Linked DNA regions of Homo sapiens. The main gene of each other region encodes a partner of the protein of the gene in region 4 in a complex. Each region holds a gene or a part of one and is shown on either strand. Other genes may lie near its edges.

Region 1 (7,988 bases), on a different chromosome or scaffold from region 4:
AGAATATAAATAAAAATAAAATTTGCTTAAAATCCATTATCCATGTTGCAACTAGAGTCATCATCTAGAACACCAACCTGACCATGTCCCTCCCTGTAGCTGCAAGGCCTGGCTTCATCTGGCCCCTGTTTACCTAACGAACCTCACACTGAACTTTTCTTCCCCTTCCATCACTAGGTTTCTGAAATGCTGCCTTCCTTACTGTTCAACAAACACACTTGGCTTGTTCTCACCATCTTTGCACTTGCTATGTCCTCTGTCTGGAATGCTCTTTCCCTAGATGTTCATGTAGCTGACTCTTTCACTTCCTTCTATTCAGAGACCTTGGAAAACCTTGCAAAAGCAGGTCCTGGATTTTCCTCACTTTTGGCCTATGACAACTTCTTTCATCTGTGAACAGTTATATTTGATGAATCTCTCACTGGGGGAGCTCACCTCTGAAGGTCTAGGTCGAAAATGCATGTAAGTTGCAGACAGAGGGAAGAAAAGCATGGAGAGTTCGTCAGTCTTTTTTTTTTTTTTTTTTTTTTTTTGAGACAGGTCTCACTCCTGGCACTCAGGCTGCAGTGCAGTGGTGTGATCATGGCTCACTGCAGCCTCCACTTCCTGGGTGCAGGTGAACCTCCCACCTCAGCCTCCCAAGCAGCTGGAACTACAGGTGTGCACCACTATGTTTGGCTAATTTTTTGTATTGTTTTGTAGAGACGGGGTTTTGCCATGTCGCCCAGGCTGAACCTTCAGTCTTTTTATCTTGTCTCCTAAGAACGTTTGAATGCTTGCTATGCTGTAATTTCTGCATTGGAGAATACAGGAAGCTCATCTCTCATTGTAAATTAGGTGTCATTACTATCACTCATTTTAGGAATCAAATGCAATGGGGGTCATTTCAAAGGAGAAAACTTAATGGGTTTCCTTGTCCATCCTGAGAGCAGGGAGGTTTGAAACTATCTTCAGAACTTTGAAGGGGTCCAACAGTTAAGAAAAGAACTGGCCGGGCGTGGCGGCTCACGCCTGTAATCCCAGCGCTTTGGGAGGCCGAGGCGGGTGGATCACCTGAAGTCAGGAGTCAGAAGTTCGAGAACAGCCGGGCCAACATGGTGAAACCCCGTCTCTACTAAAAATACAAAAATTAGCTGGGCATGGTCGCGGGTACCTGTAATCTCAGCTACTAGGGAGGCTGAGGCAGGAGCATCACCCCAACCCACAAGGCGGCAGTTGCAGTGAGCCGAGATTATGCCATTGCACTCCAGCCTGGGCGACAAAGGTGAAAACTCTGTCTCAAAAAAAAAAAAAAAAAAAAAAAAGGGAGGGGGGTGCCGGGTACGGTGGCTCACGCCTGTAATCCCAACACTTTGGGTGCCGGGAGACTGAGGCGGGCAGATCACGAGGTCAAGAGATGGAGACCATCCTGGCCAACACGGTGAAACGCGGTCTCTATTAAAAATACAAAAATTAGCTGGGCATGGTGGCGTGCGTCTGTAGTCCCAGCTATTCCGGAGGCTGAGACAGCAGGATCACCTGAGCCAGGGAGGTCGAGGGTCACTGTAGTCATGATCATACCCCTGCACTCCATCCTGAGTGACAGAGCAAGACCCTGCCTAAAAAAAACAAAGAGAGACTTTGTTGAACCTCCTTTAAAAAAATAATAATAATAATAATAGTAACTCCTCAGTAAAGTTTAGAAAATCACAAGCTTTTATTTCATGGGGATAAAAGCAAGTTTTGGTGATTACATTGTCTCCAATATGAAGAAAAGGCTGTGCTGTCTTTTAAAGAGATGGTTTATATGAAAATGTCATTACATAGTTTCAATATATAGGAGTTCAACATTTTAGGGACCCTCAATCCTATAAATCATTCCATTTTTTTTCCAATTTCTTGTCTTAATAATACAATATAAGACTCCGAAAACATTAATGTTTATTGTTTAAAACTTTTTTTTTAAGACGGAATCTCATTCTGTCACCCAGAGTGGAGTGCAGTGGTGTGATCTCAGCTCACTGCAATCTCCACCTCGTGGGTTCAAGAGATTCTCCTGCCTCAGCCTCCCGAGTAGCTGGGACTACAGGAGCGTGCCACGATGCCTGGCTAATTTTTGTATTTTTAGTAGAGACGGGGTTTCTCCATGTTGGCCAGGCTGGCCTTGAACTCCTGACCTCAGATGATCCACCCGCCTCGGCTTCCCAAAGTGCTGGGATTACAGGCGTGAGCCACCGCGCCCGGCCTAAAACTTTATTAAAAAGATATCTATGTATGTATATATGTGTGTGTGTGTGTATATATATATATATATATATATATTTTTTTTTTTTTTTTTTTTGAGTTGGAGTCTTGCTCTGTTGTCCAGGCTGGAGTGCAGTGGCGCAATCTCGGCTCATTGTAACATCCGCCTCCCGGGTTCAAGCGATTCTCCTGCCCCAGCCTCCCGAGTAGCTGGGAATACAGGTGTGTGCCACCATGCCCGGCTAATTTTTTTTTTTTTTTTTTTTTTTGTATTTTTAAATAGAGACGGGGTTTCATCATGTTTGTCAGGCTGGTCTCAAACTCCTGACCTCAGGGGATCCGCCCGCTTCGGCCTCCCAAAGTTCTGGGATTACAAGCGTAAGCCACCATTCCCGGCCTTTATTATTGTTTTAACAGAGAGAGGTGTCTCACTATGTTGCTCAGACTGGCTTCAAAGTCTTGGGTTCAAGGAATACTTCGCCTTGGCCTCCCAAAGTGCTGGGATTACAGGCATGGGCTTTTGCTTCTGGTCCCAGAGTGCATTTTCTTTTTATTTCTTTTCTTTTTTTTTGAGACGAAGTCTTGGTCTGTTTCCCAGGCGGGAGTGCAGTGGCACGATCTTGGATCACTGCAACCTCTGCCTCCCGGGTTCAAGCACTTCTCCTCCCTCAGCCTCTGGAATAGCTGGGATTAGAGGCGGGCGCCACCACACCTGGCTAACTTTTTAACTTTTTTTTTTTTTTTTTTTTCAGTAGAGATGAGGTTTCACCATGTTGGCCAGGCCGGTCTGAAACTCCTGACCTCAGGTGATCTCCCTGCCTCGGTCTCCCAAAGTGCTGGGATTACATGCCTGAGCCACCGCTCCCGGCCAATTTTTGGCCAAAGTTTCTAAAATAAAGTTTAAGGTTAAATGTCCGGCTGGGCGCGGTGGCTCATGCCTGTAATCCCAGCACTTTGCAAGGCCGAGGCTGGCGGATCACGAGGGCAGGAGATCGAGACCATCCTGGCTAACACAGTGAAACTCCGTCTCTCCTAAAAACACAAAAAATTAGCCGGGCATGGTGGCGAGCGCCTGTAGTCCCAGCTACTCAGGAGGCTGAGACGGGAGAATGGCGTGAACCCGGGAGGCCGAGCTTGCAGTGAGCCGAAATTGCGCCACTGCACTCCAGCCTGGGAGACAGAGCGAGACTCCGTCTCAGAAAAAGTAAATAAATAAAATAAAACAAAATAAATGCTCTATTTTAATAGAATTATAAATGCCCTATTTTTATAGAATTATAATTCTAGCGTTTCTTTTTTTTTTGGAGACGGAGTTGCGCTCTTGTTGCAGAGGCTGGAGTGCAATGGCGCGATCTCGGCTCACTGCAACCTCCACCTCCTGGGTTCAAGCGATTCCCATGCCTCAGCCTCCCGAATAGCTGGGATTACAGGCACGCGCCACCACGCCCGGCTAATTTTGTATTTTTAGTGGAGACAGGGTTTCAGCATGTTGGTCAGTCTGGTCTCGAGCTCCTGACCTCAGGTGATCCGCCCTCCTAGGCCTCCTAAAGCGCTGGGATTACAGGTGTGAGCCACAGTGCACAGCCCGCTTTTCCCTGTTTGTAGCGCCTATTATCTTACGGATTTATTTGTTTGCATGTCTGTTGTTGATCTCCCTGACTAGAATACCCTTACTAGGTAATCAATAAACATATACAAATATTTGTTGAAGGAATGAGAAATGCCTCTTGGGCTTGTAGTTTAGGCTGGCTAAAAGCACTGAGATGGGGAGTGGGGAGTAGGAAGAGATTGTTCTCCTGGGAGATGGGCCGGGAGGTTCCTTGAGGATGGGACTTGACTCAGCAATTAAAGAACTTTCAGATCTGCAGGGACCTGCGCTGAGGCCCAAAGGTCATGAGGTCGCCGATGATAAGAGCTTCTTGGACTGTAGCTGGGCAATGTCGGAGGCCCAGCACCTCCAAGGGACAAAGAAATCTGAGTTGAGTTTCCCTTCCAGCCGGCTCCAAGCCTCCCAGAGACGCAGGGACTGTCCCATTCCCTTCGTCCACTCCCACTCTTTCCAGCCACCTTGCTCTGCTCTTATCCCCATGCTAGTTTAAGGACGCTGGCCATTTTTTGCACTCTGCAAATCCCTCACCAAACTGAGCAAAGTAGTCTGAAAGAAATCAGTCTTCCTCAAGGAAGGTTCAGGCCTGGGGTCCTCAGACAACCAGGGGCTCCGTGACAATCTGTGACTGCAGAGCAGTCCAGGAACACCGGCCTCTCCAGGTTCGGGTCCCTTGTTTCTCAGGCCCAGCTTGGTGGGAAGCTAAAGGCATGCAGAGGAGGGGAAGGGGAGCGGGTCTGAGTCTTCGGCATGGCGGGGAACTCAGCCCGGCGTGGTGGTGGCAGCGGTCTCAAGTGATCCACAACTGGGCAGCGTAGCTGGGGCTGGGGGCCGCTCCCGGCGTGGGCAACAGCAGAAGCATTGGTGTCCCCAAGCTAGGCCAGGGTGGGTTTCCGTTCATCCGCCCTGCGTGGGCAGATCGGGCGCTGCGGGGCTGTGCCACCTCGCACCCTCTGAGGAACAAAGGGCCTGGCTGCGCGCGGGTACCCAGCCGTTAGGTTAGAAGCGCCTTCGGGTACCCCTGACCTTCGCTGGCCCTGAGAGACCCGCAGCAGCCGGAGAATGTACTGCTCGCGAGGATTTCCGAGAACGCGGCGCCGAGCCCGCGTACACGGTTACCAAGGCAACTGGGCGGTGCCTGAGCGGGCGGGAAGGAGGCGTTCGTCTAGATTTGTCGGCTTGCGGGGAGACTTCAGGAGTCGCTGTCTCTGAACTTCCAGCCTCAGAGACCGCCGCCCTTGTCCCCGAGGGCCATGGGCCGGGTCTCAGGGCTTGTGCCCTCTCGCTTCCTGACGCTCCTGGCGCATCTGGTGGTCGTCATCACCTTATTCTGGTCCCGGGTAAGACCCACGGCTGCACTCAATCCGTCCCCATTCCCATCTCTGAGTGGTCCTAGTCCTACCCTGCCCCCTCCCAGTGTCTTACCCTCTTGGGTTTTCTTGTTTCCCGCCGCCCCCAGGCCTGCCCTGCAGCCTGCCCCTTTTTCACTTCTCTTCCTGTGCCCTGCTCCCAGGACAGCAACATACAGGCCTGCCTGCCTCTCACGTTCACCCCCGAGGAGTATGACAAGCAGGACATTCAGTGAGCTCTTGGGACGGGGTGGCCAGAACGAAGAGGTGGTGGGAGTGGAGGGGTCTTAGAATAAGTCCAAAGGCCTGGGCCAGTCCACTTCCTCTCTGCAGGCTGGTGGCCGCGCTCTCTGTCACCCTGGGCCTCTTTGCAGTGGAGCTGGCCGGTTTCCTCTCAGGAGTCTCCATGTTCAACAGCACCCAGAGCCTCATCTGTATCCTTTCTGCCTGCCCACCTTTCCCACACGACCCACTTCTATCAGGACTCCCTTCAGCCACCTGACACAATAGTGTCTGCTGTAGCCAATCCTTCCAGTTCAAAGATCTTCAACGATGTGCTAAATCCTGCTGTTTACTAGGCACTTAAAATCCCAAAATGAGAGTAAAATACAGTTTTTGGCCAGGCATGTTGGCTCACGTCTGTAATCCCAGCACTGTGGGAGGCGCAGGCAGGAGGCAACATAGTGAGAACCCAAGTCTACAAAAATAATAGGAATAATAAAAACCCCACCGTTTCTTTTTACAATGAGGAGGAGGTAGATACAAATCTGTAATTCAGTGTGATAAGCACTGTGCTATAGAAGTGTGTGAAGATAGAAAGCACAGGCAGGGCGCGATGGCTCACGCATGTAATCCCAGCACTTTGGGAGGCCGAGGCAGGTGGACCACCTGAGGTCAGGAGTTCGAGACCGGCCTGACCAACATGGTGAAACCCCCGTCTCTACTAAAAATACAAAAATTAGTCGGGCGTGGCGGCGCACTCCTGTAATCCCAGCTACTCAGGAGACTGAGGAAGGAGAATTGCTTGAACCCGGGAGGCAGAGGTTGCAGTGAGCTGAGATCGTGCCACTGCACTCCAGCCAGGGCAACAGAGCAAGACTCTGTCAAAAAACAAACAAAAGATATAAAGCACAATGGGAACTCAGAAGAGGCAACGGAAGCGAGCACTGGGAACTCAGAAGAGGCAAAGGAGATGAGGCACATGGGTCAGAGAATTGTGGACCAGGAGGACCAGGACACTGGAGGCTGATTCCAGCGCATATTAAGTCGCTGTCAGCACTCCTTTGTGGCATAGCAGAAGGAGAGCCTACTCTTACCTCTCATCTGAAGGATCCAGGCTGGCCCACAGATAAGGGGTAGGGTAGCCTGAGGTCCGATCTGTGCAGTCACTTCTGGTCTCTCCTCACATGACTGTCCTAAAATTCAGAAGTCAGAGCTGCTGACTCTAGCCCTTGAAACATGGTGAGGGAGCAAGGGATGAACCTGAATGCAGATGCCAGCCCCACCACTGGCCTTTTCTGACCCATCACTGTCTGTCGATCCAAAGACTTTCCTTAATCTCGTGCCTTCCCAAGCCATTGGGGCTCACTGTAGTGCATCCGTGGCCCTGTCCTTCTTCATATTCGAGCGTTGGGAGTGCACTACGTATTGGTACATTTTTGTCTTCTGCAGGTGTGGTAGCATCCAATATTTGGGGATGAGGGAGGAAGGTTGGCCCTAAACCTGAAGGTTTTTCCCCTACCCAGCCCTTTCCTCCATGTGTGAGATACCAGATCCACTCAACATCCTGTAGGCTTTTAAAGTTTCATCCCCTACCCCCCATGCCACCTGCCCTACACTTTCAGAGGTGGGGTCTCTGGTTTGGAGATTTGGGTATTTATACTGAAAGGGTTTCTGAATCTACCACTTGCCTTGGTAGTGCCCTTCCAGCTGTCACTGAAATGGCTTTATTCGTCACCGTCTTTGGGCTGAAAAAGAAACCCTTCTGATTACCTTCATGACGGGAACCTAAGGACGAAGCCTACAGGGGCAAGGGCCGCTTCGTATTCCTGGAAGAAGGAAGGCATAGGCTTCGGTTTTCCCCTCGGAAACTGCTTCTGCTGGAGGATATGTGTTGGAATAATTACGTCTTGAGTCTGGGATTATCCGCATTGTATTTAGTGCTTTGTAATAAAATATGTTTTGTAGTAACATTAAGACTTATATACAGTTTTAGGGGACAATTGAGATGGCTGAACTACTGAATAAAAAAAAAACAACGCTGTTTTCTAGTCCTGCAGACCGTAAGATACTTGGTATCGCTTCTATTTTGGTTACTACGGTAGGTGCCTGGCGGAAGGGAGTGGGCGGAGATATGTAAATAGAAAGTGCGTACAGTTAGAACGTCCGGCACGTAACTGATCGGAGCATTCTGGGAAGAAGTAATTTATTCCTTTTCGGCAGCCGAATGAAAAAAAAATTTAAAAAAATGTGCGAGCTAATATGGCAAAACAACTGGAAGGACGCTAAATAATAGGATTGCTCATACCAGCGCGTTATGAACTCACCCTAGCTTGTAACGGAATCTTTTTCACTGAGTGCAGAATGTCGGCTGTTTGTCTGTATCGTCAGGTGGGATAATCCTTACCTGTTCCTCCTCCGGAGGGCAGATTAGAACATGATGATTGGAGATGCATGAAACGTGATTAACGTCTCTGCGTAATCAGGACTTGCAACACCCTGATTGCTCCTGTCTGATTCTTTCTGACGATCACTTACATTTGTGTTATGCTGATTAGCAGATATCCACAAACATAGCTATGAAGTTCTGA
Region 2 (7,035 bases), on a different chromosome or scaffold from region 4:
TGTTCTCTGTATTTCCTGAATTTGAATGTTGGCCTGCCTTGCTAGGTTGGGGAAGTTCTCCTGGATAATATCCTGAAGAGTGTCTTCCAACTTGGTTCCATTTTCCCCATCACTTTCAGGTACACCAATCAAACATAGATTTGGTCTTTTCACATAGTCCCATATTTCTTGGAGGCTTTGCTCATTTCTTTTTAGTCTTTTTTCTCTAACCTTGTCGTCTCGCTTTATTTCATTAATTTGATCTTCAATTACTGATACCCTTTCTTCCACTTGACCAAATCGGCTACTGAAGCTTGTGCATGCATCACATAGTTCTTGTGCCATGTCTTTTAGCTCCATCAGGTCATTTAAGGTCTTCTCTACACTGTTTATTCTAGTTAGCCATTTGTCTAATCTTTTTTCAAGGTTTTTAGCTTCCTTCCGACGGGTTCGAACATCCTCCTTTAGCTCAGAGAAGTTTGTTATTACCGACCTTCTGAAGCGTACTTCTGTCAGTTTGTCAAAGTCATTCTCCATCCAGCTTTGTTCTGTTGCTGGTGAGGAGCTGCATTCCTTTGGAAGAGAGGAGGCACTCTGGTTTTTAGAATTTTCAGCTTTTCTGCTCTGGTTTCTCCCCATCTTTATGGTTTTACCTACCTTTGGTCTTTGATGTTGGTGACCTACAGATGGGGTTTTGATGTGGATGGGGTTTTGATGTGGATGTCCTTTTTGTTGATGTTGATGCTATTCCTTTCTATTTGTTAGTTTTCCTTCTAACAGGTCCCTCAGCTGCAGGTCTGTTGGAGTTTGCTAGAGGTCCACTCCAGACGCTGTTTTCCTGGATATTACCAGCGGAGGTTGTAGAACAGCAAATATTGCTGCCTGATCCTTCCTCTGGAAGCTTCGTCCCAGAGGGGCGCCCACCTGTATGAGGTGTCTGTCGGCCCCTACTGGGAGGTGTCTCCCAGTTAGGCTACACAGGGTCAGGGATCCACTTGAGGAGGCAGTCTATCCATTCTCTGAGCTCAAACGCTGTGCTGGGAGAACCACTGCTCTCTTCAGAGCTGTCAGACAGGGATGTTTAACTCTGCAGAAGTTTCTGGTGCCTTTTGTTCAGCTATGCCCTGCTGCCAGAGGTGGAGTCAACAGAGGCAGCAGGCCTTGCTGAACTGCGGTGGGCTCCACCCAGTTGGAGCTTCCCCGGCTGCTTTGTTTTCCTACTCAAGCCTCAGCAATGGCAGACACCCCTCCCCCTGCCAGCCTGCTGCCTGGCAGGTTGATCTCAGCTGTGCTAGCAGTGAGCAAGGCTCTGTAGGCGTGGGACCCACCGAGCCAGGCGTGGGATGTAATCTGGTGTGCCGTTTGCTAAGACCATTGGAAAAGCGCAGTGTTTAGGTGGAGGTGTCCCATTTTTCCAGGTACAGTCTGTCACGGCTTCCCTTGGCTAGGAAAGGGAAATCCCCCAACCCCTTGCGCTTCCTGGGTGAGGTGATGCCCCACCCTGCTTCAGCTTGCCCTCCATGGGCTGCACCCACTGTCCAACCAGTCCCAATGAGATGAACCAGGTATCTCAGTTGGAAATGCAGAAATCACCTGCCTTCTGCGTTGATTATGCTGGGAGCTGCAGACCGGAGCTGTTCCTACTCGGCCATCTTGGAACAGACCTGCACAAAGTAAAATTTTTATATCAACTTTTGCATAGACTGTTCAGGTTCATGTTACTTTTCTTTGCCATTGTTCTGTTGTAGGTATATGCCAATCTAACATCTTGTCAAGCTCTTGGAAATATGTGTGTGATGAACATGAATTCTTACGACTTTGCCACATTTGATGCATGTGGACTATTTCAGTTTATCTTTGAAAATACTGCTGGACTGAGCACTGTTCATTCTATTTCATTTTGGTAAGGATATTTTGATTGATGAAATGTTATTTTGACTGAATTCAGTGCAGTTATTAATATATTCACAAATACTAATAATAAGAAATATTTATTCTCCATTATTAAAACAGTTGTAACTGTTTATAGGAGACAGAATCTTCCTTGGCTGTTTTATGGAGACCAGTTAGGATTAGCACCTCAAGTGCTCAGTTCTACCTCTCTTCCTACAAATTTCAGTTTTAAAGGAGAAAACCAGGTAAAAGTGTCTAATATCATTAGAGGATAACTACATTTTGATTTATAATTTTAAAAGGTAATAAAGTTACAATTCTTGCCTTTTTAGGTTGTTGGTACAAACTCAGTTACTAAACTAAATATAAATGTCAACAACTCATAAGAACTAAATAGTATAGAGTTTAGCTATCTTACTGAATATGTGGATACTTCTGGATTGTGTGGTTATGGCAAGAAGTTGTACTTGTAGGGTTGGGAAGAGCAGTTTTCATCACCAAATGCAAAAAATCTCTGTCCTGTTTTTTCCACACCTTAAAGAAGTGCTTCCAAAGATTGATTGGGGCTCTGTGACATTGCTCAGCACTTCACAGGGCCAAATTCCTACCTGTAACTTTTTGACCTTCCAGAATGAGGAGATACTATTCTCCCACACTGCCTCCTATTTAACAGGTTCAAAAGGAGGCTATCTGTCACTAGTGCTGCCTCTCAATTCTAGAATAATAATTTTCATGCAAAAAACCAGTCTAATTCTTTCAGGTCTATTTAGTCATAGAAATAGATTAATTGAACCTCAAAATAAAGATAATTGAATGTAATTTTTCAACAAAAAAGATCAGTCAACAATGAAAATTTCTTTATAGGATATTGTATTACTTTCAGAGTATTTGACCTGATTTTGCTCGTTTTCTTTAATCAGAATACAAAACTGAAGTTTGTTGCTGCTTCCTATGATATAAGAGGAAATTTTCTCAAGTGGCAAACTTTAGAAGGAGGTGTTTTACAGGTAAGCATGATTCTAGTTAAAGAATTAATAACATGCATTATTTTTGCCTGAGACAAAGCCAAGAGGAAAAGATTATTGTATGAATAAAGCATCAGTTACATACTACAGTTGATTTTTTTTCTGATGCTTTAAATTAGACTTTCTTAAGTTTTTTGTTTGTTTGTTTGTTTGTTTGTTTTTTCTTTTTTTTTTGAGATGGAGTCTCGCTTTCTTAACCAGGCTGGAGTGCAGTGGCGCGATCTCAGCTCACTACAAGCTCCGCCTTGCGGGTTCACGCCATTCTCCTGCTTCAGCTGGGAGCTGGAACTACAGGCGACTGCCACCACGTCCAGCTAATTTTTATGTACTTTTAGTAGAGACGGGATTTCACCATGTTAGCCAGGATGGTCTTGATCTCCTGACCTCGTGATCCGCCCTTCTTGGCCTCCCAAAGCGCTGGGATTGCAGGCATGAGCCACCATGCCTGGCTAAGTTTTATTTCTTTAAAGTTATGACTTTCATTTATAACAGATGTTCCCTTAACTTTTCATATCCTTGATACATTAAATAAGTATTATGTAGAGCATATATCCATGTTCGGGTTTGAGAACTCTTGAGTATAAGAATAGAAAACATTTGTGAGATTTATCTGTTGTATTATTTTGCTGCAGCTTTGTCCAGACACAGAGACAAGGCTAAATGCTGCTTATTCATTTGGAACAACCTACCAACAAAATGTAAGTTTGAACGATATTAGTCTATATTTTAGCTTTATTTTTCAAAATATCATGTCAGCAGTAATTGGAATAATACTTAAATTTTTGAGATTGGAAATTTTTTATTCTTGGTTTTTTTTTTTTTTTTTTTGAGATGGAGTTTTGCTCTTGTTGCCCAGGCTGGAGTGCAGTGGTGCAATCTCAGTTCACCACAACCTCCGCCTCCCAGGTTCAAGTGATTCTCCTGCCTCAGCCTCCCGAGTAGCTGGAATTACAGACATGTGCCACCACGCCCAGCTAATTTTTTGTATTTTTAGTAAAGACAGGGTTTCTCCATGTTGATCAGGCTGATCTTGAACTCCCCACCTCAGATGATCTGCCCTCCTCAGCCTCCCGAAGTGCTGAGATTACAGGCATGAGCCACCGTGCCTGGCCGGAAATGTTTTTAATAGTGAAGAATAATTTCACTATTTAATATAATTTTTTATTACCTGGGTACATAAAAGCTTAATTTAAGTGGCATAAACAGAGCACCTTGTTATCTATAGAGTTTTTTGTTTTTTGAGACAGAGTCTCGCTCTGTTGCCCAGGCTGGAGTGCAGTGGTGCAATCTCAGCTCACTGCAATCTCTTGCCTCCTGGGTTCAAGCAATTCTCGTGCCTCAACCACCTGAGTAGCTGGGACAACAGGCATGTACCACCACACCCAGCTAATTCTTGTGTTTTGCATAGAGATGGGGTTTTGCTGTGTTGACCACGCTTGTCTCAAACTCCTGACCTCAACTGATCCACCAGCCTTGGCCTCCCAAAGTGCTGGGATTACAGGTGTGAGCCACCTCGTCCGGCCTAGAGTCTTAAACATCATATAATATTACATCTTCATAATAAATTGTTTATCTGCTTCTAGGCTTATAGGTCTTAAAAAGTAATGCTTACTTCTGAGCATTTTGAAATAAAGTAAAAATACTACTTTTTTTAAATGACTAATAAAAAGTTACTCCCTTCTTCTACCCGCTCATAACAAATAAAAATAATTCCTTCATCTTCTTCCATTCTTTTCTTTCTCCTTCCTTCTCTGACTTTCCTTACTTTGATACCTATTTTGAAATTACATTATTTTACTAAGGAATATTATGAGCCATTCAATACTTGAAAAACATGCATGTATTAGTCCGTTCTCACGCTGCTAATAAAAACACATCCGAGACTGGGTAATTTACAAAGGAAATAGGTTTAATTGACTCACAGTTCACTATGGCTGAGGAGGCCTCAGGAAACTTACAATCATGGTGGAAGGGAAGCAAACATGTCCTTTTTCACGTGGTGACAGGAAGAGAAGTACTGAGCAAAAGGGGGAGAAGCCCCTCATAAAACCATCAATCTCATGAGAACTCACTCACTATCATGAGAACAGCATGAGGGTAACTGCCCCTATGATTCAATTACCTCCCTCCGGGTCCTTCCCATGACACATGGGGATTATGGGAACTACAGTTCAAGATGAGATTTGGGTGGGGACACAGCCAAACCATATCAATTCATTAGTCTGTAAAAGTACATCTTGATAAAGTTCCACGCACAACCATAGAACAAAACCATAACAAAAAATACCATTATGGAAAGTAGATTGGAAGAATCTACTAACAGTGGTTACCTCTGGATAGTGGGGTTAGAAATTATTTTTTTCTTTTTTATAATTTCCAAATTTTCTACCATGAACATGAATTTACTTCTTTTGTCAGAAATGATTTACACGTTGTTGTTGCTGTTGTTGTTAAAATAAATGTTATTGTGCTTCTAACATAGGCCAGAAAGATCAACACTTATGTAATGCCTATCTGTGTGCTCAGCATTTTATCGTTATTATCCCATTTGATTCATAAAATAACTATATGAGATACATAGTATCTGTGCTTCACAGATGAGGAAATTATGCCGTGTAATTAGGTAATTTACTCAAAGACTTGTGTCACATAAACTGTGGAGCCAATGTTCTATCATCAGGTTTAAAAAGCATTTTTATTTCTTTGAACCTGGCTAACTCTCAAGTCCTTCATAGACTAGTGGGCAAAACAGTTATATAGACAAAGAATTGCAAAGAATGTGATAAGTGTCATTCTATAGGTATGTACAAGGTACTGATTCCTGGGGAAGTATAGAAAGGCTTCACAAAGTAAGTGATACTTGGATTTGTATAATGAATATGAGTTTTCCAGAAGAACACAGTGGGGAAGGAAATATCAGACAGAAATCACATTTGTAATGACAGAGAGACATACAGTAGTATGGCATATTTAGAAACTACAAGTAGATTAGTATGAATGGACCACCATAGACTGATAGGGAGTAATGAGAGATAAGCCTGGCTTGGTTAATGGAAGCCAGATCATATACATCATTGTACAGCAGGAGAAAAAATTGGGAATTTATCCCGTAGGACAGTAGTTTTAAACCTTTTCACTGATGTACCCTTAATATTGAGAATGAAGGTATACCTCCTTCATCTGAGTTGAAGCTCAAGAAGTTCTCAAAATTCTCAAAGCAGTACTTTACTGTTAGTGGTTTTGGTCCTTATAAAATAATCATAGTATTCATGTTTTGGAAGACAAATGAAAATGCATATAAACAAGGTAGTATAAAGACATTTTGCAAAACTAGAAAAACACTCTGAAGATAATAAATATGCTTGCTAATTTTCAATTGTGATCTTTTATTTTATTTTTTACTTTTTAGTACTTTAAGTTGCTGTTTTATGTGCTTTTATTTTTAATTTTACTTTTCAGTGTGAGATTCCTATCTCTAAGATCTTAATTGACTTTCCCACTCCTATATTTTATGATGTGTACCTTGAATATACTGATGAAAATCAACATCAATATATTTTGGCTGTGCCTGTGTTAAACCTAAATCTTCAACATAATAAGATATTTGTGAACCAAGGTAAGACATCCATACATACCACTCTTTTCCCTGAGCAGAAATCAACAAATAAGTTAACCTACATGATAATTTAATAAACCACTGATTATAAGAAAGGTCATGAATTCTCTCTTATGTGGTTCTATACAGTGTGCCAAAAAATGAAACAATAAATTGCTGGTGGACTTAGAAACTGTTGCTAATTTTATTGCCAGACATATTGTTAAGAAATTATACTGTTGCTGAGGGTATATCCTGAGAAACATTAGTAGAACCGTAAATTGGGGCTTTTTCGTCAAGCTGTCCCGAATATGCTTTTTTGGACAAATTAGTTTCTTTTGTTGTTATTCATGTTATAAAATTCTGCTTTTTCAGGTAATTTGCAGGGGAAAGCCTTCCAAATTTATGAAAAGTTCAATCAGAAGACATTCAAGTCCAAGGCACGGTGGCTCACGCCTATAATCGCAGCACTTTGGGAGGCCAAGACGAGAGAATTGCTTGAGCCTAGAAATTGAAGACCAACCTAGGCAACATAATTAGAAC
Region 3 (7,035 bases), on a different chromosome or scaffold from region 4:
AATCACTTTTAATTTAGGTCTATGAAGTTACCTATATGATTTGATCTTAAGAAACACAAAATTTTAATTAGAAAGTAAATTGTTTTCTTTTAATGTCTTTGTTACTGAGACTGTTTTGAATGCGCCATATTCTAAAGCTGCTTATCTTTTTTGTTTTTTGGAGATAGAGTCTTGCTCTGTCCCCCAGGCTGGAGTGCAATGGCGTGATCTTGGCTCACTGCAACCTCTGCCTCCTGGGTCAAGCAATTCTCCTGCCTCAGTAGATGGGATTACAGGTGCCTGCCATGAGACCCGGCTGATTTTTGTATTTTTAGTAGAGATGGGGTTTCACCATGTTGGTCAGGCTGGTGTTGTTGAACTCCTGACCTTAGGTGATCCACCTGCCTCAGCCTCCCAAGGTGCTAGGATTACAGGCATGAGGCACCGTGCCCAGTCAGCTGCTTATCTTTTAAATAAAGTGAATTTCAAAAACAGATACTTCATATTCTGGGCATAGCATCACACATACAACCATTACCAATATAATAATATTAAATGATTACTTAACAGACATCCTAATAACGCAAACACCTTTTATTCACATTTGCTGAGTAGCAATTACAGTGTTTTCTTCATTAGTTTTCCAACACTGGTAATGTAATTATGATGCAATTACTAACAATATAAGTACCAATACTTTGACCAACAATAGTCACAATGGTTTATAACAACTGAACTCAAAGGCCACGTTGATTTTTCCACCCACAACTTGATTCTGATTTTTCTAGAGTCATTCATAAGAACAAGAAGTAGTGGATCCTTTCTTCCTCCTTAGTATCTGAAAATTCTGAACTCTGAAGAGAAATTCCATTTGGTTTGTCATTTTCACCTCTGTGCATTTCGGCAGCTCTTAACTTTTCTTCAATTCTTTACTGGAAAGAAAAATACACAAAATGTACTAAATAAACTTGAATAATGTCTTCTGACTACAACCAAATCTTAGTGTGCTCAGGCAACAGCACAGGTAATAAAGGACATTGTGTAAAACACAAACACATACAAACACAACTAAAAAAGACCAAAATACTAATTTCCTATCTTCTAGTTTGCCTCTCAAACATTGTTAGCATCTTTTTGTATCATTAGCAATTGTTTAAGGCCTGCTCCTGCATTGACAGGTTAATGTAAGCAAGAAAGAAATAAAATCCCCAAATATAGACACTAAAAACTCCAAACCATAAGTAACTTCCAGAAATGAAGAGCAGGCAATCAGAGTATATGAAATTCTTCATTGAATGGGAAAAAAAGTCCTCATGGATGATATTCAGGGTTAGTGATTCGGAAGGATACAGATAATTTTATTAAATAGCATTCTTTCATTTAGTCTATGGCTATGCCTACTTTTATATAATTAGGTTATTACATTTTTCAAATCAATTAAAAAATGGGCTGTCTCATTTTTGACCAAGATAGTAACAATCAAGCATCCAGATGTGGCTTTGATGTAAAACAAATTATACAATTCATAAAAATCAAGAACCAATATGCAGATGAAACAAGAAGTTGCTTCCTTAGACAGCATGTAGTATTTGCACTACAACTAGTGTGAGATAAATTAGTGGGGCTAAACCTAACATTTTTTAATGCAATCATTCATACAGCATTGATAAGTTCTGGACTTACACAGAAAGGTTACTGTCCTTCTTCTAAAGAGAAAGGCTTAACACCTGGTTGTCCTTAGAAAACACACGGCAGTTTCAGAACGATGGCAAATCTGGTTAAGGTAGCAGTCAACTCCATCGACCACTCCTGAGAAAAGTGACAGCTGGCACACTGTGGCAAGAAAGGGCAATGGCTAACCATTCCTGAAGGGCTTTCCCTGGGGGCACAGGAGGTGTAGGGGACACCTGTGCTTTAAGGAACAGGCCCAATCTTAAATCAATGGTCGCACTATCTTTTCATATAAAACACATTTACACATGAGGGGCAAAAATTCTTTATCACTTGATGTTTCTTGATTTTAAATTTGTTAAACAGAGCTACTCCAGGTAAGCTTGTATCATATATAGAAGCCCAAAAATACGTTCTAGTGAAGCTCATGAATGCACATGAAGTTGAGTATAAAAATGGTACAGAATACGGCATGCCAAGGTATAATACCACTAGGGGCAAAAAAAGTCTCCCTGTACATATACAGAAAAAGTACGTAAAACTTTCACCAAATTAGGATCTGATAAAAATGGAAAAGAAAGTAGTTTCAATGAAGGCTGGGCTAAAGTCACAGAGAGACATATAAACTTCTGCAAAAGGCAGTGAGGAGGGTAAAGGATCTTACAGGAAGAATAAGGCAAAACAAAGTGAGAGGAAGAGTTCATGTTAGTGGGAGGACAAAAAAGAAGAAGAAAAACAGAAAAGGGAAGGGGGAGAAGGGGAGAAGAACAGCTGGAAATTAGTGAGATGGATCCTGCACGTGCAGAAGATGTAGGACAAGTGAAATCAATCAGGTGGTGACTGCACTGTGAGAAGTAAACAGAGAAGCCAGACGGACCTTCAGGAGAAGAACCCAAAGAGAAATTCAACTCGAAAAATCTAAAGTAGGCAGCAAAGATAACATCTTTGAGGGAAATGATTCAGACTCAGAAGAGGAAGAAACACACTGGATAGAGAATGACAAAGATGGCGCATAAAAGGGAGAAAAGAGACAGAATAAAGATGGTCATGTGCACCCTTCGGACACTGGCGGCTCCTCCTGACGATGGGAGGAAAATCAAGAGTGGCACACTGGCTTGATGAACGCTAACAGCAAAAGGACCTGAAAGCTAGGAGACAGCAGGGATGTGCTGAAAGAGGGAGGAGAAGACATCTAACCAAAAGACAAGGATAAATGCAAAGCCATTCCTTCTCTATCTTCTCATAAAGTATCTCTGTAATCTAACAGAGGAAGAAAGTAACGAAGCAAAGCCCTTTTTAAAGGCTCTTGTGATGAAAAGAGAAAGAAACATTCTTCTTAGCAAGCTTATGAAAACAAGTATGAAACTAGGTTAGTGTTTGTGTGTATGTTATGTCTGGGGAATAAGATTCATAAAAATACCGGGCCGTGGCCGGGCATGGTGGCTCATGCCTGTCATCCCAGCATTTTGGGAGGCTGAGGCGGGTGATCACTTGAGGTCAGGGGTTTGAGACCAGCCTGGCCAACATGGTGAAACCCCATCTCTACTAAAATACAAAAATTAGCCAGGTGTGGTGGTGGGTGCCTGTAATCCCAGCTACTCGGGAGGCTGAGGCAGGAGAATCACTTGAATCCAGGAGGTGGAGGTTACAGTGAGCCAAGATCGCACCATTGCAGTCCAGCCTGGGCAACACAGCAAGACTCCCTCTCAAAAAAACAAAAACAAAACACAACAAAAAAACCTGGACCTTACCCCACAAGACATTCAATCCAATAGATCTTTCCTGAAGGTTTACTTCTGTGGCAAGACACCAGGCTAAGTGCAGGGGAGGAAAAAAATGTGAGTATGTATTAAATAATAGCCCCTGACTGGAAGCACTGGCCATCTAATCAGAGTTAATATACAAAGCAATGTGTAAGAGAAACAGCCCTGAACTTGGGGCAAGAAGATTAATTCCTAGTTCAGGTACTTTGTAGCTGTAACTTTGAAACCTTGGTTTCTTTAAATGTAGAAACAACACGCTGTATTAGAAAATTTCTAAAAATTACATTCATTTTGAAAGAAATGATCAAGTAGTAAATATACAGTAAGTAGATAAATTAGAAAATGCACAAAGTTAAAATAGAAGAAAAAAATTACCATAATCTTACTACTCAGATAATTATTCATGTCTTTTGATGTATATTATATAAACTATTTTATAATCATTTTTTACTTAAAAATCATAAACATCTTTTCATGTCCATAAAAATACTTCCATAATATGATGAATAACCATATGATATTCTGTTATATAAATATTTCATATTTTAATCAACCCTTTATTTTAAAAACACTGCTCGAAGGAGTAGCCTTTTAACTAAATCTCTCCATGTATACTTGAATACTTTCCTATAAGAGATTCCTTGAAGTTGAACTGTCAGGTCAAAGAGATGCACATTTTGAAAACAAAACAAAACAAAAAAAAAACCCTAACATATTACCTAATTATACTTCACAAAGAATGGATCAATCTTATAGTATTACCAGCAGTGTAAGCGGGAATCCACATCCCATTTTCTCATCAATACTAGGTATGTATCATAAGTTTGAAACTTGTCATTTTGAAAGGGTAAAATACCATCTCATTTTATTGTTTTAATTTTCATTAATTTGATCAATGGATGGTAAACATTTTTCATATGTCTGTTGCCATTTATATTTATCCCTTTAAGAATCCTTTAAGAATGTCCTGTGTATATCTTTGTCCCGTTTTTCTACTGGTGTATTTTTTTTCTTGTTGAAAAAGCTCCTCTTAGAGCTTTTTATTTGTTAAGGGTATTACTCCTGGCCAGGTGCGGTGGCTCACGCCTGTAATCCCAGCACTTTGGGAGGCTGAGGCAGGTGGATGGCTTGAGGTCAGGAGTTCAAGACCAGCCTGGGAAACATGGCAAAACCCTGACTCTATTAAAATACAAAAATTAGCTGGGTGTGGTGACACGTGCCTGTAGTCCCAGCTACTCGGGAGGCTGAGGCAGGAGAATCACTTGAACCCGGGAGGTGGAGACTGCAGTGAGCTGAGATTGCACCACTGCATTCTAGGCTGGGTGACAGAGCAAGACGTCTCAAAACAACAACAACAACAAAAAAAAGAGTATTACTCTTCCATGGGTAAATCTCTTCCATCCCAGGTTATTGTTCATTTAAAAATTCTATGACTTTTTTTCTTTTTGACCTGCATAATTTTAAAGTTTCCATTATTTAAGAATCTGTTTTATAATGTTTTCCAATTCTGGTATCAAGGTTAAAAATAATTCCTTAGCCCATGATTACATAACTATGCATCTATATGCTTCTGTACAATTAGATTTTAGTTTTCTACAATGGAAAAATAAAAATATGAAAATTTTGACTCTAGTTCCTACAAAATGACAAATTTATAAATGTGGACATGAACAGCTTCGTAACATTTCACCTTGAACAGAAACTTCACTTCTACTTAATAGAGAAAAGGCCTTCTGGCAGGCCTTCCCTATACCCCAACCCCTACCATCCAAACACATTTTCCCACTGGCGTATCTCGGTGGAAAAAGTGGCCCACTCTTGAGCTGTAATCCTCTGGAGTTCCTTAGGCCCCCAGGGACTATCACTCTGCTCCGACACCGCAGATGGCTCCTTCTCAAGTGGCTCTTTCCTCTCAGTTTGTAAATATTCTTGTCATTCCCCTCTTTATAAAGATCTTGTCTATACCCTGTGTTTTCCACTAGTTACTGCCTAGCTTTTTCTTTCCTTTAAATTCCAGCTTCTAAAGAGAATAAGACTATTCTTACAGTCTTTTTCCCTTTGGGCTGGAGACAATCTGATTTATGCTTCCAGGTTTCTCCATCAAAACTATCTTCTCCAAGGTCGCAAATGGCCTCCCGGTTACAGATCCCAAATGGGACTTGTCAGTCCTTATTTTACTTGCCTCTCTCTGGTATTTGTCCTTGCTGACCATGCTTTCCTAAATCTTTTCCTGTTGACAACATAGCGCAACTTTCTATTGGTTTTCCCCTTACCTCTATTAGAGTGACTTTTCTGCCTGCTTGCTTGTTCTTCCTCATCCGTGTATCCATTATGTGTCCTTGGTCCTCATGGCTCTGTTCTTTTCTCATTTCAGAACTATAGGAGGGAAAGATCAGAAACAAGGAGCCAGTAAAAGAGAGCTGAGCTAAAAGCTCAGATGAGGCTTTGATCTAGGGCCGTGGCAGTGGAAACAAAAATGGGGATAAATGTGAGGATATGACAGAGAAAAACATCCGGCAGAACTAATGAGTATACACGGGGATGAGAGACAAGGAATTGCTTAAAATAACGTTAACAGACAAACCTTTGGCTGGTTGGGCTCCTTCTTAGCCATGATAAAGGGACAAGAATAAAATAAATTTCAAAATCTTAAACAATTATCTGTGGACTTACAGAATAAAATAAATTTCATCTGTCTCAGAAAAATATTAGATGCCTGGGAAAAATCAGAAAGTTCTATCAACTTAGGTGGAAACACACACAAACACACACACACACACACACACACACACAAAAGTATAGGACATTCATTCATGACAAGAAAAGAAATGAAGGAAATTTATATATAAGAAAGCTGTAACATCCTGATCTGTGGAATGAACAATGTAGCTTTCCAAATGATTCAATGGCAATAGCAAAATATAAAACAAATGTTTTGTGGATGAGTGTGTAGTAATGCACTTTATATTAGGAGAAAGAAAACACAAAAACAATGAAAAAAAAAGGAAAACTGAAGAATGGAACAGAGTATCTTCTAAGTTGTCTAGGAATGGTGAGAAACACCACAGAGGAGCTTGAAAAAGATACAAGAATTTCAAAATCAGGTATTAAATAGGACTGAATAGAGATTCTTGTGAACCAAATGATATTTCCCCAAAATTCACATGTTGACACCTGAACTCCTAATGTAACTGCATTTGGAGACAGGGGCTTCTAGGGAGATAACTAAGGTTAAATGGGGTCAGAAGAGTGGGGTTCTAATCTAATAAGACTAGAGTCCTTAGAAGATGGAAAGATGAAACCAGAGCGTGCTCTTTTTGCACAGAGAAGAGGCCATGTGAGGACACAACAAGAAGGCAGCCACCTCCAAGCCAGGAAGAGAGGCCTCACGGGAAACCAATCCTGCTGGCACCTTGATCTTGGGACTTCTAGCCCCCAGAACTGTGTGAAAATAAGTTTCTGTAGTTTAAGCAATGAAGTCTGTGGTATTCTCTGTGGCACCCTGAATAGACTAATGAAGAAATGTGTAAGTAAGTGAAATGAAGTCAGATGACTGAGAATGAAAAGGTCAGAAATTACAAAGAAGAAAGGACAGTAAATTTAGATAGAATGATAAAAGAAC
Region 4 (3,047 bases):
CAGAGGGGCTGTTTCATTCTCAGCCCCCTCAGCAGCACTGGGGGAAGAAAGCATTGTCACAACAGGTTCTTTCTGGCCCTCACCCAACAGCCTGGGCACTTGGCCCTCCTCCTCCTTGACAGCCCTCCCCCTTCCTGCAAAGGACAGGGGCGACAGGGGTTGGTGTTGGGATTGGCTCCCGCTGCCTGACAACCACAAGTTTATTTGGAAGGCTAGCGGGAAGCCCAGCGGCTGGCGTTTCCCTTGACTAAGGAACAGGGTGCCCATCAGAGTGGGGCGGGCAGCTTTGGGAAGGACACAAGAAGCAGTAAGAGTGTAAAGAGGATGCTGGCCTGGGCAGGCCAGTCCAGCCTGGCCACTAGCAGAATACCAAGCAGTCCAGTGGATTACCCTCGTGGCTAAGCAAGTGTCTGCAGGAGCAGAGATGGCTGGAAGGGGCCTCTGCACACGGAAGATGGCTTGTTCAGCCCATTCACCTCCTGAGGATGTGGGCAGTCTCCTCCAAGAACACATGGAGCTGCTTCCTGATCCCAAGCAGGTCATTGCCACTGGAAGGACATGGCCCCGGTGATCCATGCTTCATGCCCACCCAGAAACACACCCCTCAGTGTGTGCCTCAGTTTACTTTGGAGATCAGTTGTCGTTTTTAGTGCTCCTTTAGGCTTACTAAAACAGTTTTGGAAACAAAGCTATTTTGAAGTATTCAAGCAGAGGAATTCCCTAACACTGACCCCCTTGTCTTTTTTTAATATTCAGGCTGTTTTATATGCCTAAATTTTTTTCTTAAGATCTAAACGAAAAATAGTTTCTTGTTTAAATTCACATAAGGCAATGAGATATGGAAAGATGACAAGATACGTATAAACATTGGTTTGCATTTTATTAAATTATTCTAATGCAAATCTTGTATAAAGAACCCATGATGTTTTGTAACTTTCTAATTAAAATGTTCAAAATGAGGCCGAGCATGGTGGTTCATTCCTGTAATCTCAACACTTTGGGAGGCCAAGGTGGGAGGATCACTTGAGCCCAGGAGCTTGAGGCTGCAGTGTGCTATGATTGCACCACTGTACTGTAGCCTGGGTGACAGAGTGAGACCCTATCTGTTAAAATAAATAAATAAATAAATAAAAAAGTCAAAATGGAAGATCACATGTACCTTTTTCGAGGGAAAGGGTTTGGAATGGCAAAGAATAGGGAGGGCAGAGGTTGCACACACCTGTCTTTATTACTCATCTACAGCCATGCTTTACAAGGCTCTGCCTAACGACCTTGGAACTTCCATGAGGTCTTTGGTGAAAGTCCCCTAGTTCTTCCCCAGGTAGATGAGTTTTCAGTGGGATTCACATGCCATGTGAAATCTACGTGTTGGATAATTATGACTGTGTCTGGTGAATATGAAATTATTTACAGACCAGATGTTGATAGTTTCTGACTCTGAATCACAGCATAGCTGCAAGAGGTAAATAAAAAGCAAGAGGCCGGGAGCGGTGGCTCACGCCTGTAATCCCAGCACTTTGGGAGGCCGAGGTGGGTGAATCACAAGGTCAGGAGATCGAGACCATCCTGGCCAACATGGTGAAACCCCATCTCCACTAAAAATACAAAAATTGGCTGGGTGTGGCGACACGTGCCTGTCATCCCAACTATTTAGTAGGCTGAGGCAGGAGAATCGCTTGAACCCTGGAGGCGGAGGTTGCAGTGAGCCGAGATTGCGCCACTGCACTCCAGCCTGGCAACAGAGCTAGACTCCGTCTCAAAAAAAAAAAAAAAAAGAAATATAGAGGATTTTATTAACTCAGCTCCGACCCATAGCTAAGTTAAGGTTTGATGTTATTACTGAATATTTGGAGGCAGAAAGACTCCTGATTTTGCCAAATGATTAGTACAGTTTCGGCTTAAGTCAGATGAGGCCCCCCTAATATTCCATCATGTAAGGCTAATAAAGCAATTATTTCTTTTTTTTTTTTCCTTCCAACTTTTATTGTAGACTCATGGGGTATATGTATGGGTTTCGTATATAGCTAAATTGTACAACCTGGGGGTTTGGTGTACAGATTATTTCATCACCCACGTAATAAGCATAGTACCCAGTAGGTGGTTTTTCTTTTCTTTTTCTTTTTCTTTTTTTTTTTTTTTTTTGAGACAGAGTCTCACTCTGTTACCCAGGCTGGAGTGCAGCAGCATGATCTCAGCTCATTGCAGCCTCTACCTCCCAGGTTCAAGTGATTCTCCTGCCTTACCCTCCCGAGTAGCTGGGATTACGGGTGCCCACCACCATGCCCGGCTAATTTTTGTGTTTTTAGTAGAGACAGGGCTTCACCCTGGTGGTCAGGCTGGTCTCGAACTCCTGACCTCAAGTGATCCATCCGCTTTGGCCACCCAAAGTGCTGGGATCACAGCAGTTTGATCACAGAAGTTATTATGGTTGGCATTCTGGCACACATCTTTCTAATCTTTTTTGTTGTATGTAACCTTTTTAGTATCACAAACAACACTTTTATAAACCTTGTGTAGAAATCATTGTTGCTGGTTTATTTCCTTAAGATACATTCAGAAAACTTATGACCATTGTTAAGGATCTTAATTCATTGCCAAACCACAGCCAGGAAAGACTGCTAATTTCTACTCCCAGCAGCAGGGACTCCTCGTTTCAGATACCACCATGGATTAAAGGACCTCCCAATGCTCTATCCTTTTCAGATTACTGGACTCTGCCCGTTTGTTTCTTTGTTTTTGAGATGGAGTCTCGCTTTGTCACCCAGTCTGGAGTGCAATGGCCCCATCTCCGCTCACTGCAGCCTCCACCTCCGGGGTTCAAGCTATTCTCCTGTCTCAGCCTACCTAGTAGCTGGGATTACAGGCATGTGCTACCATGCGCGGCTAAATTTTGTATTTTCAGTAGAGATGGGGTTTTGCCACGTTGACCAGGCTGGTCTTGAACTCCTGACCTCAAGTGATCTGCCTGCCTTGCCTCCCAAAGTGCCGGGATTACAGTCATATGCCACCAGGCCAGGCTGAGCTGTTATTTGTAAGGGGTGGGTGGG

Evidence for each region.
Region 1: TMEM231 (region 4) and TMEM107 share a complex: the UniProt entries of both Homo sapiens proteins name them as parts of the tectonic-like complex.
Region 2: TMEM231 (region 4) and TMEM67 share a complex: the UniProt entries of both Homo sapiens proteins name them as parts of the tectonic-like complex.
Region 3: TMEM231 (region 4) and AHI1 share a complex: the UniProt entries of both Homo sapiens proteins name them as parts of the tectonic-like complex.

Annotation. Positions count from the first base shown.
Region 1 is NC_000017.11:8,173,381-8,181,368, reverse strand, and holds the start of TMEM107 (transmembrane protein 107), read left to right. Parts: upstream 1-4,988; 5' UTR 4,989-5,082; coding exon 5,083-5,169; intron 5,170-5,342; coding exon 5,343-5,410; intron 5,411-5,493; coding exon of another isoform or gene 5,494-5,511; coding exon 5,512-5,612; intron 5,613-6,494; exon of another isoform or gene 6,495-6,593; intron 6,594-6,752; coding exon 6,753-6,849; intron 6,850-7,096; coding exon 7,097-7,166; 3' UTR 7,167-7,988. UniProt on the Homo sapiens protein: Plays a role in cilia formation and embryonic patterning. Requires for normal Sonic hedgehog (Shh) signaling in the neural tube and acts in combination with GLI2 and GLI3 to pattern ventral and intermediate neuronal cell types.
Region 2 is NC_000008.11:93,778,866-93,785,900, forward strand, and holds part of TMEM67 (meckelin isoform 1 precursor), read left to right. Parts: intron 1-1,727; coding exon 1,728-1,882; intron 1,883-2,008; coding exon 2,009-2,117; intron 2,118-2,792; coding exon 2,793-2,879; intron 2,880-3,529; coding exon 3,530-3,595; intron 3,596-6,356; coding exon 6,357-6,513; intron 6,514-7,035. UniProt on the Homo sapiens protein: Required for ciliary structure and function. Part of the tectonic-like complex which is required for tissue-specific ciliogenesis and may regulate ciliary membrane composition.
Region 3 is NC_000006.12:135,284,737-135,291,771, forward strand, and holds part of AHI1 (jouberin), read right to left. Parts: intron 5,790-7,035; coding exon 5,687-5,789; intron 912-5,686; coding exon 909-911; coding exon of another isoform or gene 890-908; 3' UTR 1-889. UniProt on the Homo sapiens protein: Involved in vesicle trafficking and required for ciliogenesis, formation of primary non-motile cilium, and recruitment of RAB8A to the basal body of primary cilium.
Region 4 is NC_000016.10:75,536,217-75,539,263, reverse strand, and holds the end of TMEM231 (transmembrane protein 231), read left to right. Parts: 3' UTR 1-2,523; downstream 2,524-3,047. UniProt on the Homo sapiens protein: Transmembrane component of the tectonic-like complex, a complex localized at the transition zone of primary cilia and acting as a barrier that prevents diffusion of transmembrane proteins between the cilia and plasma membranes.